Linked DNA regions of Homo sapiens: regions 1 and 3 are each linked to region 2. The links come from fine-mapping of genetic effects on gene expression. A gene starts in region 2. Each other region holds a variant in brackets. All regions are shown on one strand. Distances are from middle to middle. Region 1 overlaps MCTP1 (multiple C2 and transmembrane domain containing 1). Region 2 holds the start of MCTP1 (multiple C2 and transmembrane domain containing 1). Region 3 overlaps SLF1 (SMC5/6 complex localization factor 1).

The links. PIP is the estimated chance that this variant, and not a neighbour inherited with it, causes the effect.
Region 1: its variant is the best candidate, but not a certain one, in a credible set for the expression of MCTP1 in neutrophils (CEDAR, PIP 0.58).
Region 3: its variant is the best candidate, but not a certain one, in a credible set for the expression of MCTP1 in whole blood (INTERVAL, PIP 0.52).

The regions. Positions count from the first base shown.
Region 1 is chr5:94,744,534-94,748,778 of GRCh38, reverse strand. The region is part of intron 19 of MCTP1 (multiple C2 and transmembrane domain containing 1); the gene reads left to right. Among named protein-coding and RNA genes, the nearest start is that of SLF1, 130 kb to the right of the region's middle. The variant G/A (reference allele first, on the strand shown) is at 2,435.
Region 2 is chr5:95,283,419-95,287,663 of GRCh38, reverse strand. MCTP1 (multiple C2 and transmembrane domain containing 1) reads left to right here and starts at 2,570. Exons shown (of 23, transcript NM_024717.7): 1 at 2,570-3,808. The coding sequence starts at 3,089. RefSeq lists silencers at 3,222-3,281, 3,362-3,481.
Region 3 is chr5:94,686,957-94,691,201 of GRCh38, reverse strand. It overlaps SLF1 (SMC5/6 complex localization factor 1), which reads right to left. Exons shown (of 21, transcript NM_032290.4): 17 at 2,533-2,696; 18 at 1,596-1,729. Among named protein-coding and RNA genes, the nearest start is that of SLF1, 70 kb to the right of the region's middle. The variant T/AGGT (reference allele first, on the strand shown) is at 2,166.

The DNA of each region.
Region 1 (4,245 bases), 540 kb after region 2:
TAGTGCTACAGTGCTTCTGGCTCAAGAAAGTCTTTTTGGAATCTATTAGTATCATCAGTGTCCTGAGACAATCGAGAAACTTAGAGTGCTGATAACTATGCTCAAAAAGTAAATGTGCAAGGCAATGTTAACTATATTTTCCATTACATTCCAAGTCTATTAATAGAAAGAACAAAGATCAGAGAATAAAAACTTGCCCCACAGAAATTTTATTTCCAGTCAAAGATTTGAATCTAAATTTTTCAGAGCATGGGACTAAAGAGATCAGGCAATCATGGGTTTTGTCCTGTAGCCACAAAGGATGTATGTACCTATTTAACCATGTCAAAATGTTTCCTGGTAAACTAGGGGGCCAGGTTAGAAAGTTGGCAGGGAGCCATGTACTCAGAACTACTCTGAGAAGCCTTAACGGACTGCTGTCTCGACAATGTTTCAGTAGTTCCACAGTCGTCACCCTGTGCTCTTTAGCAAGCTCTGAGTCCTAACTGTACATGCAACTGGCATGTGTTTATCTAGTCTGGAAAATGCTTTCCTATAAAAGATGAAGAAACTGAGTTTAAAAGTCCACATACCTTTGGAAGACACAGAAGATGGAATAAAACCCACATCAAATTACAGAAACCTAATCATCTGGGTCAAACAGTATAATTTGTCAATAGTATCAAAACTTCCTTATGGTTTCTTTCTTGAGACAGAGTTGCACTCTTGTCACCCAGTCTGGAGTGCAATGGCACAATCTCAGCTCGCTGCAACCTCTGACTCCTGGGTTCAAGCAATTATTTTGCCTCAGCCTCCCAAGTACCTGGGATTACAGGCGCGCGCCACTACGCCGAGCAATTTTTATACTTTTAGTAGAGACGGGATTTCACCACATTGGCCAGACTGGTCTCAAACTCCTGACCTCAGATGATCCACCTGTCTTGGCCTCCCAAGGTGCTGGGTTTACAGGCGTGAGCCACCATGCCTGGCCTCCTTATAATTTCAGAAGCTCAATTTATTACAGAATAATTACCCCCATCCAGTTAGTATAATAGTTAAAGACCACTAACCCACCAATCAGAAGACCTCGATTCTAGATCCGCCTCTGTTGCAATCTGGACTTTACCTCTCTTAGCTTTATATATGAAAAGGATTATTTGGGCTAGAACAGAAGTCAGTAAACTACAGTCCACAGGCCAAATTCAGCCAACTGTAAATAAAGTTTTATTGGCATACAACTACACCCATTTGTTTTCTTACTATCTACGGCTGCTTTCATGCTTTCAATGAAGGGGTGAATAGCGGCAACACAGATTATGTGGCCTGGAACACCTAAAATATTTACTATTTAGCCCTTTACAGAAAAAAAAATTACTTCTGAATTGGAAGCTATCCAAGAGATAGCTCCTCTGTCTCCTCATCTGCAAAATGGGAACAAAAATAATACTTGCCTCATAAGATTATGAGGATTAAATGATGGTTCTTAATACAGTTTCTACATAGGAAATGATAGGTAACATATAATTATATAACTGTTAAAATGGTGAGCATGACCATTGTCAGAATTGTAGCAATCAGTTTTCCATTACAGAAAAAATACTTGCTGCTGTCGTGCTATGCTACGATATTACATGGAACAGAAAAGATGGCAGTTCACACACAGAACTCCTGGACAACTGAAATAACAAAATCCAGTACAGGCAGAAGATATGGATAAAGGCAAACTGTATCTCCAGCCTAAAAAAAAAGCTGGAAACCTACATTATCTAATTATCAACCTGATACTTGAGCTAGACTTTGAAGGCTAAGTCAGATTCAAACAAGCCAAAAGAGGAACTTAAAGGTATTCAAGGTCAAGGGGAAGTGGAATTCCCAAGAGGCCTTGAGAGGGCAGTTTGTAGAAGAATTTAGCCACAGCAAAATATACTGACGCAAGAGTTGTGAGTGACAGGGTAAGAATGGTTGGTTGGGACCAGGTTGTGGAGTTTTGAGCACTGGAGCAAGGAATGTAGACAGTTTCTTATGTGCATTGAGATCCACTGAAGTTTTCTGAACCTGAAAAATATTAGTATTTCTAGAATAATTTACCTATCTTTATGACATGGAATGCATGAGAAGACAAAGAAACAGGAAATTAAGTTCATTTTAAAGAGATGAATTTCAGTTTTGTCTGCACTATTACATTATAAAAATGTCTTATATTTGTTGTTTATATTTGTTCTTATTCCCCTTTGTAAAATTTCACTTAAGCCTACTTTACCTACTGTATTTAAAATGGAGTAGTAGCTAATGCACAAATATACAAATGAAGTCATGGTTTTTATTCTTTCTGTAACTACTTAAAGAGCATCATTTTACATATATCTCAAAACATTCATAATATTAGCACTTATTAGGGGTTTACCGTGTAAAAGATAGGAGAAAATGAGTCAAACATGAGTAACGCCTTCAATCT[G/A]GGAGGGGAAATAAATGACATAAAAGAATTAATAGAGGGCTGTGAGTCATTTGAGTATTCAGAAAGGAGTAGGAGGCAGAAAGGGCTCCAGTCAAGTGTGGCGGATATTGTCTACCCAGTGTTTATTTCCCCATTTTCCCTTGCTAATGGAAGACGGACTTTGTACATAATGACAAAGATTCTGCCTAAATCCTCAGTTTTCTAAGGTTTCATTGTATCTATGAATGACTCTTTAATATAGTTCTGGCCAAAGAGCTGGAAAAGGATGTGTTCCGGGGGTTTCTGGGAAAGTTTTTTACTTTCTTGATAACATAGGACAGATATTGCTGACTCCATCCTTCCCCCTCTCATCTACCTTTGAATGTGAATGCAATGCTTACAGCTGGGGCAGCCATATTAACACCATGAGGCAATAAACATAAGGATGAAGAAATGGAAAGACAGAAAGTTCTTAGGGCCCAAATGATCACTTTGAACATCTGGTACAATATCAATAACCTGACTTCTGAACTTCCTATTGCATGAGGAAAATTAACTCTACTACCTAATCTACTACTAGAATATTCTGTTGCTTGCAGCCGAGCACTTTGTGCTGCTTCTCTTCTGTAAATATGTTTTTCTTCAATGAGTACTTATTTCTTCAACACATTTTTCTTCAAGTTTCTATTAAGCACCTATGTGTCAGGCTCAGTGTTAGGCACTAGAAATAAATATAATGATGCCTCCCTTAATTTTTCTCTGCAAGAATACCTGATGATTTTGAAGATACTCAAATGGAGAACAGTAAAATGACTCTTTCCTCTCCACCTTTCTTTCATATCGCCTAACTGCCCTCTACCCCTACCAGCTCATCTGCAAAATGGGAATAAGAGACAAAAAGAGACAAAGTGAAAATGAGGCTAAAAGAAGTCAAATATATGTATTACACATGCCTCCTCCCCATTCTCCCAGAAGAAATGGAAACAAGTGGACACTCTGTAAGAGAACAGGAAAGCCAGTGCAGCTCCTTTATCCCTCCTCACATCTTGCACCAAAGAGCACACTCTCCGAGCTGTGGAGCAGCTATGGAATCTCCACCCAGAACATTATAATTGACCCATTTTGGGAAAAGGTTTGTTCACTTGTGGGCATACTGGTTATAGACAGAAAGGCATTATTAAGCAAGTCCTCAAACCTGAAGCCCTAAACTTCCCCTTAGACCTTGCTGCACTCAGGCGTATCCAGTAAGAAAACTATGGTCATGAGAAGTGGCTGGGAAACATTCTTACTCTCTGTGGGTGGGAGCATGTCATAGGACTACTCTGGAGTCTTCCTTCTCTTGTTGTTTCAACCATCTTAAAAGCAATGGTTATCTGACAAGAAATGCTGTGTTAAGGCTGTGCCCTTGGACTTGTCCAAGTTTGCACAGCACAGGCAGGGCAGGATTTGAATCCAATGTTAAAGCCCCTTACTGTATTTTGGGAAATGAGCTGAACACAGTTTTAGTCTTGGTATCAAATCTCGGGATGTAATCCAGTCAAGAACTACCTATTGGTGGCTGGGCGCGGTGGCTCACACCTGTAATCCCAGCACGTTGGAGGCCGAGACGGGCGGATCACCTGAGGTTGGGAGTTCGAGATCAGCCTGACCAACATGGAGAAGCCCCATCTCTACTAAAAATACAAAATACAAAAATTAGCCCAGTGTGGTGGCACACGCCTGTAATCCCAGCTACTCAGAAGGCTGAGGCGTGAGAATCCCTTGAACCTGGGAGACAGAGGTTGCAGTGAGCTGAGATGGCACCACTGCACTCCAGCCTGGGTGACAGAGCA
Region 2 (4,245 bases):
AAAGCCAGTGAAAAATGCCAACCCTTCTGCTTTCACCCGGTGGGGAGGTACCTCCATAAAGGCAAATGTGGTTGGCTTTTCTTATTCTGTGTGGAGAGTGCTTCACAGCCTCTGTGTTTACCTTTGCAGTTGTGAGCTTGCCCTAATGTGGACTCTGCCTCACCAGTCCTGACTTTTCCCTCATTTGCTTCTCAGAGGCTTCCTCAGGAATTAGGTGGGGTTGGCCAGAACAGAGCTACAAAGAAAGGGTAGGCCATCGTAGCTCTAAGACTGTTTCATTCTCTAATTATTAAGGTTCCAAAGGAAAACTTTCAGCAGCACACAATTTTTTCAAAAAAACATGCTTTATTATTGTTTGCTTTTATTTATACTTTAAATTTTAAAATAATTATGGACTCACAGGAAGTTGCAAACATACTACATAGAGCTCCTGTGTGACCTTCACCCAATTTCCCCCAATGATATTATCATACATAACTATAGTTCAATATTAAGACCCAGGAAATTGCCATTGGTACAACTTATCTTATTCAGATGTCACGTTTTTATGTGCATTCATATATGTATGTAGTTCTATGCAGTCCTATCCTGTGTATAACACACATTCATGTAACCACCACCACAATCTAAATTTGTCTCATCATAACAAATAAACTTCTTTATTCTGATCCTTTACATTTGCCCCACCGCTAACCCCTGGCAACCACTATCCATCTCTATAATCTTGTCATTTCAATAATATTATTTAAATGCAGCCCAGTGTTTCTCCATTCACGTTGCTCTTTTTCCAAAGCATAGTATTCATATACTTGGGAAATACTGGGTCTACCAAATAACAATAATATCAACTATATACAGGCACTGAGCTAAGTCCTTTTTCCACTTAATCTTCAAAATAGCCCTGTGAGGCTATTTATTAATACCTGGCATTAGTATTAGTAAATCACATCACATTACCCTCACGATTAAAAAAGACCTCTAATGTCTCCCAATTTCATTTAGAGGAAACATGGACTCTCACTCTGGCTATAGGACCCACTCCCTTAGCTGACCTTTTGTTTCACTACATCTCTTACCAACCCCACCCACCTTGCTCTACTCTATTTGGAGTGGTATCGTTCTGTCCTTGAATATGCCCAGTCAAGCTGCTTCCTGCCTCAGGACCTCTGTATCTGCTGTTCCTTCTACCTGAAATTCTACAGTCAGATCCGTCAATAGCTGGTTCTCTGTCCTCATTAAGTCTTAACTCAAAATTTTATCTTCTCAGAGAGACTCTCCCTGTACACATAATGTAAAAAACCAAAAACCTCTCCATATGGGGCTGCCAGATTTAGCAAACAAAAACATGACACCCAGTTAAATTTAAATTTCAGATAAATAATAGTATTTTAGTATAAGTATGTCCCATGCAATATTTGGGACATACATATACTAATATTATTCATTGTTTCTCTGAAAGTCAGTTTAATTGGGTGTCCTGCATTTTGTCTGGAAGCTCTTCCTCTGTAGCCACTCTGTTATGTGGTACCCTGCTTAACTGTTTCCATGGGACTTTTGCATATTAGAAATTCTGTTTATTGTCTCGCATCACCTCCCAACCCTCACCCTCACAATAAGCTCCATGTGGGTGGGACCCTGATGCCCTGTTCACAGCTGCATCCCCAGAGCCTATCACAGTGCCTGGTATATAGTAGGTGCTTAATAAATATTTGTTATAAAGGTAACAAAAACAAAACAAAACAAAAAACTTAGGTTGGTAACACCTCCAAAGCATACTGCTAGCTAGACAAGACTGATCAGTGTGCTACCGCAGCTTAGGGAACTCTCCCGTTTTCCCCATTTAGGAGGACGAAAGAGGCATTGTGTTGCTGGCCTTTCAGAAGTCTCTCCTAGCAGAATCAGAAGACCCTGGCTGAGCAGCTTTGGGAGAAGCAAAGTCTGAATGAGCTAAAAAGCCTTTTCCGTTTGCCTTGCAACAAGCAAATGAAGTAACCAAAGAAAAAATGCGCTTGAATGAAAAGAACAAGATTCTGTGCGTGCCGAATCGGATCAAAGGCAGTGCGCATCACCCATCTTCGTCCACCGTAAACTCCCTGCAACTTAAGGGCTGGCTTTATCGTCAGACTCCGGAAATGCTAGAACCTGATCATAAGAGACCAGTGCAGAGGCAAATAAAGAAAAGGGAGGGGTGGATGGGGATGAAGTCAAGACAGAAGAAATTAAACTCTCGTCTTGGACCCAGGGAGCGCAACGGGGCGGGGGCAGACGTCTTCAGCTTTAGAACTCCGTCGGGTTCATCGCTCAGTGTGGACGATCGGCGCCCCCACGAGACCCATCGAGGGCACATAGTTTCCACTCCAGCTCGCTTCATCCGACCCAGACGATCGCCAGCGCGGCCAGCGGCCAGCGCACAGCGAGCTGCCTGGGCAACTGTGGCCGGATCCTAGGGAGCAAGCTGGCTTCGGGCCCTACCTAGCTCCACCCGGCTCCTACCGGCCCTCCCACCTAGGAGCTGGAGGATGGTCCCGGGGCGCCCCAGGGGGACTGCTGGTCCCCGGAGTCTCCAGCCAGACGCGCCTTGTTGTGTGAGCCGCGTGCGCGCCCAATTTGGAGGCAGCCGCCCCCGCCGCTGACAGGTGCTGCCCAGAGGGCGCCGGGTGCGGTCCCTGGCGCAGCTGGACGCGCACGCCCCGGTGCGTGCAGCTTCCCGAGCTCGGTCAGAGAGAAGAGGGAGCCAGGGCGCGGCCTGGGGGACGCCAGTGGACTGGAGCCGCGGAGCTTCGAGGGAAAAACTTTGCAGGCGCCGCGGCCGGGATTCGGTTACGGCTCCAGCCCACCCCAGCAGGTGCGGGAGGAAGAGGCAGCGCCGGAGTCCCGAGGCCAGAGAGCCTCGGCGGCGGCGGCCGCTTCTTTCCCCCGAGCTGGCCTGAAGTCGCTGGGCACTCCCGGTTTCTGCTGCTGCGCCCGCCGCCGCCGCCGCCGCCACCGCCAGCGCCGCGGGGACCCGGGAGGAGGTGCAGCCGAAGAGGGAGGAGAAGCAGGAGGAGGAGGAGGAGGAGGAGGGGAGAGGAGGAGCAGGGGGTGGAGGATGGAGCCCCGGGCTGCCGCGGCGGGCGAGCCAGAGCCGCCGGCGGCGTCCTCCTCCTTCCAGGCCCGGCTCTGGAAGAACCTGCAGCTGGGGGTGGGCAGGAGCAAGGGCGGCGGGGGCGGGCGCGCTGGGGGTCCAGAGCGCCGCACTGCGGACACCCCGTCGCCCTCCCCGCCACCCCCGGTGGGCACAGGGAATGCACCGGCCAGGGGGAGTGGTGCAGGCAGCAGGTGGAGCGGCTTCAAGAAGCGGAAGCAAGTGCTGGACCGAGTCTTCTCCTCCTCGCAGCCCAACCTGTGCTGCTCGTCGCCGGAGCCCCTGGAGCCCGGCGGCGCCGGCAGAGCCGAGCAGGGGTCCACGCTACGCCGCCGGATCCGCGAGCATTTGCTCCCCGCCGTAAAGGGGCCCGCGGCGGCCTCGGGAGCAGCGGGAGGGACGCCTCCTGGCGGACGCTCCCCCGACTCAGCTCCTTCCTCTTCCTCCGCCTCATCCTCCCTGTCCTCCTCGCCCCAGCCTCCCCCGAGGGGGGACCGCGCCCGAGATGAGGGTGCACGGCGTCAGGGCCCCGGGGCGCACTTGTGCCACCAGAAGAGCTCCTCTCTGCCGGGCACCGCCTGCCTGGAGCAGCTGCTGGAGCCGCCGCCTCCTCCCGCAGAGCCGGCGCGGAGTCCCGCGGAGTCTCGGGCCCCGGAGACGGGCGAGGAGCACGGCAGCAGCCAGGTGAGTGCCGGTGGCGCGGCCGGAGACAAGGTGCGCGGGACCACGCCTCCCTCTTCAGGCGTTCACCACCCGGGGAGCGGGGGGCGGGGGCCGGGAGGCGGGAGGAGAAATGCTATTAATTCTAAGTAGATGAAACAGTCGAAAGAAAACATCTCGCTCTGGTTTAGCAAAGATGAAAGAGTTCTGACTTGCACCCGGACTTTACTTTTGGTAGAAATGATACCTGTCACCAGAAGCTTTCTGAGTAGTCAATGAAAAGTTAGACCTAAAGTGGGTACTTTTTAGAGTTCTCCTGAAAGGAGATGTCCAGCCAAATCTCATCTTGGCAAAAGAAAAAACTAACCCAATAACTTAAAAACAATTACGATCACGTGTGGTGGTGTGGAGAGGTACCATTGGAAGCAAATGGCTGGCGGGAAGAAATAGAAACGTGGAGA
Region 3 (4,245 bases), 600 kb after region 2:
TTAGAGTGCAATTGCCCTCTCTTAAATTTATTCATGAACCTACATTAAATGTATGGCTCTTTTTTATACAGCATTTATAGCTTAATTCAAATGAATGTTTCTGGCTAAGCATGAGTGCCTCTACACACTCAAGTATAATTCAGAACTTCAAATCCATTAACAGATGGTTTGCTGCTTCTCAATAGGCTGTCTGGCTTGGCTACAACAGCAGAGAGAGGGAGAAATGGAGGAATCTTAATATAAACACACCACACACACACACACACACAGACACACACACGGATGTAAAAAAAAAAAAAATCCCTAGTACCATTTAAAGCTGAACAAGAGTAACAAATAGAAATGACAAGGTTTTTTCTAGGAGAGACGCAATTAATGCCTTCTGGCTAAAATTGTCTATATCCATCACTGTTACAACCAAGATTAATAAGATATAAGTGATTATTTAAGGGGAATTTTAAAAAAATTACTATAAATGACTGCTTAGGAAACAAAATGAAATACTGAATCTAATTTGTTCTTACTATAAAATACTAAGTAGCACATTTTTACAGTGTTCAGTTTTACAGATTATCTCTAACTTCTACAAAAACATTTTTTTACATGCATAAAAAGCTTTTGAAGTTTTTCTCTACTATATCTCAATTCTCTTCCTCTCTCCCAGTTCCTTCTGCTGTTCTGCCTAAAATCATTCATATTCATTTTACTTTCTGAAACAATAAAACAAAGAAAAAGAACGCTGATTTGTGAAATTAATATCTGAGTTCTCATCTAATATAATTTTCATATTCCAAGTCAAATGGACAGTTATTTTGAATCTGTAATATGCAATTATGAACTTATATCACATTGAAATATAAGTGCTTCACTGTCACTATTTCCATGGGTGTCATAATGTTAATATTTGTATTAAAAACAAGATATAACTCATAAACAACAACAACAAAAAAGACTCAGCAATTTACTTTGGCCAGGTATAGACTTCTGGAAGATCCATTTACAAGTTATGAGGTGGCTAAGTAAAAGAGGTGCCAAAGTGAATTATTATGCTATTCTTGTTATTTCATCCTTTAGGTACTTAGGTTCCAGTATAGTTAGAACCAAAAGCCAAACACATTTCATAGTCTGGGCTCAATGCCTGGAAGAAAAGAGCCCATATGCTTAACACAGCTATGTAACATAGCCTACTCTTCATTCTTTGTTCACAAAATGTCTAGGACTGAAAGAGATGAAGACTGAATTATACTTTCAAATCAGAAGACACTGATCCTAAGCAGCACAGGTTGAGATGGAATAGAAAAGTAAGGCGGGCAAGTCTGGAATGAGCTCAATGAATGCTACACTGTGTTTCATATCTGTAATGGCAGGGAGAGGAAAAAAAGGAAAGAATACTCTATTATACTGGTTATTAAACAATCACTTTCTTTGCATAAATGACAGTTCAAGAAAATAATACGTTATCCAAGAAGGTACTTCCTGGACCTAGTCCAATATTTAAGTTCAAGTATTCATCAGGGCAAATGTGTGAAACCTGCAAGTACTGACTATAACCATGAAAAGTTCTTAGCATAAATTAATTTAAATACTTGGAATACCTTTTAGATTAGTCTTGTGAAAATTCATCTTTTTAACTACAGAGGGGCAATTCTCCTTGGAACATGACAATTCTCCTTCTGACTTCTTTTTCAATTTTTTTAATGATGAGGAACATTTAGCAAGGTTCAGGTCTCTGAAAGGAAAAGTAAGAAATAATGAAAGCTTGTTTTTCAGCAAGGCGTGCCAGCATACATTAGATGGTATTTTTTAAAAGTCTAGCCCCCTTTTAATTTAAACTCCCTTACTCATTCAATCTTTACTGCTTTCTAATTTTAAAATTTATTTCAACTGTGTAGAAACAAACTTCAGTGCACTAATTTTCTTTTATTAGTCCTACTCCCCCAACTGCTCACTAAATTTATAAATACAGAATGTCAAATAAAGAGAAAAAGACCAGTTAAACCATATTTGGCAGAGAGAATAAAGCAGAAAGCTAAGATCAAGCAGGCCTCTGCTCCCCATTCTTACTTTCATATTCTGATTCTATTCTCTTCTTCCTCTCACAGAAGCTTTCAGGCTTTCTGAGTTTTATACAACATACACTTTTATACACCTTATACTTTTAGAGG[T/AGGT]TTCTCATTTTGGGGAAACTACTATAATGATACAGGATATCTCATATGACCATGCATTCTGAAATCCCATCTATATTATGGCAAAGTAGTCATTCAAATCATAGGGCAAAAATTGTGTGGAACTGTATTTCATCAATAATTCATCAATAATTTGATGAGCAGTTTTATTTCTTTTGGGAAGCACTTAGAAAGCATGTACCTTGAATTACAGAAACAGAAAATGTTGATCAAATAGATCTAAAATTGAGTTTTGATCTAATCAGTATAATTCAGACAGTATCACAGATAACCATTAAGTTCAAGAAATGCATCAGAGAAAGAGCTGTACTCCAAAACAAAGCACAGCTGGGATATCAGCATCACTTACAGTAACTCTGGCAGCCCTTCGACTTGTTTTTGTTTAGTACCATTCAGCATTAGTAAGGTTCTCTGAGAGTCAAAACAAGGCCGCTGTCCTATTTTCTTTGACACCTGAATCTTTCCAGACCCAAGCACACCAGTTTTCCCCAAGGCTGGTAAATAGGAATATACCTGTTGAAAAATAATATTGCATTATTTTCTCAACTACAAAAACAGCAGTAAAGAGAAATTATTTGATTCATTTCACTATTACATTTGGTTATATTTTCTTGGTTGCATCACTATGGTTGCCACTCTATCTTGGTTGAACATAATAAAATATTAAGAAAACTAGTTTTGTGTCAAAGTCAATACCATGTGAACAACCAGAAAAACACCTTCTTAAAAATAATTATTTTTTTCTAATTCAATTTTGATCCTCATTTAGGAAAGCTCTTTTGATTAGTCTTATGCCCAACAGGTATGATTCATTTGCACATTTTATATGTATGATTTACATACAACTGGTATTTTGTAATTTCCATTCTGATAATGCCTTGAACAGAAAACAAGTCTTTCTTCAACAGAAAACAAAATAAGGAATAAAAACATCCTTAAAGGATTGTTGCAAAACAGAATTTGACTAATATCTAAAGATATTAATATCTAAAGATAGATATTAATATCTACATATCTAAATTAATATTGCCTTATTAATAATAATAAATAATTATTATTAAATATTAATATCTAAAGATAGCCAAAATAAAACTGGAAAACTTTAAATCAAATGTAGCTTATATGCATAATATTTTGCTTTTTAAATACCATTTAGAATTTTGTTGGATCTAGTTCTTTCCAAAATAATAACCTATGTAGGAATTTTATTAGGAAACAAGGATTTTTTAGTTTTCTATGATCAACCCTTGGCTACGCTCAAAAGTAATTAAAATTTCTTTTTCCTTTCTTTTCTTTCTTTGTTGTTGTTGTTGTTGTTGTTGTTGTTGAGACAGGGTCTTAGTGTGCCACCTAGGCTACAGTACAGTGGTTATCACAGGTCACTGCTGCCTCGACCTCCTGGGATTAAGGATCCTCCCACCTCAGCCTCCCGAGTAGCTGGGACCACAGGCATGTGCCACCATGCCCAGCTAATTTAACTTTTTTTTAGAGACAGAGTATTGCTATGTTGCCCAGGCTGGTCTCGAACTCCTGGGCTCAAGGGATCCTCCTGCCTCAGCTTCCAAAAGTGTTAGAATTATAGGCAGGGGCCATCATGCTCGGCCTTAAAATTTCTATTTGGTGATTACCTTCCCCCCACTGCCCCTGGAGAAGGGGTCTCACTATGTTGTCCAGGATGGAATGCAGTGGCTATGCACAAGTGCAACCATAATGCACTACAGCTTCAAATTCTGGGGATTAAGCAATCCTCCCGCCTCAGTCTCCTGAGTAGCTGGAACTACAGGCACTCACCTGCAGGCACTCACCTACAGGCACTCAGCACGGCCGCTGGCTTTCATTACTCTAATTAGAGACAGAAATATACTAGCTTTTATACAGAATTGAAATATTTATGAATTAATATATTCTGCCTACTTACTTGAAATAACTAAGAATTTTTTAAAATTGAGTTTGTGGGCCAGGCGTGGTGGCTCACGCCTGTAATCCCAGCACTTTGGGAGGCCGAGGCAGGCAGATCACGAGGTCAGGAGATCGAGACCCCGTCTCTACTAAAAATACAAAA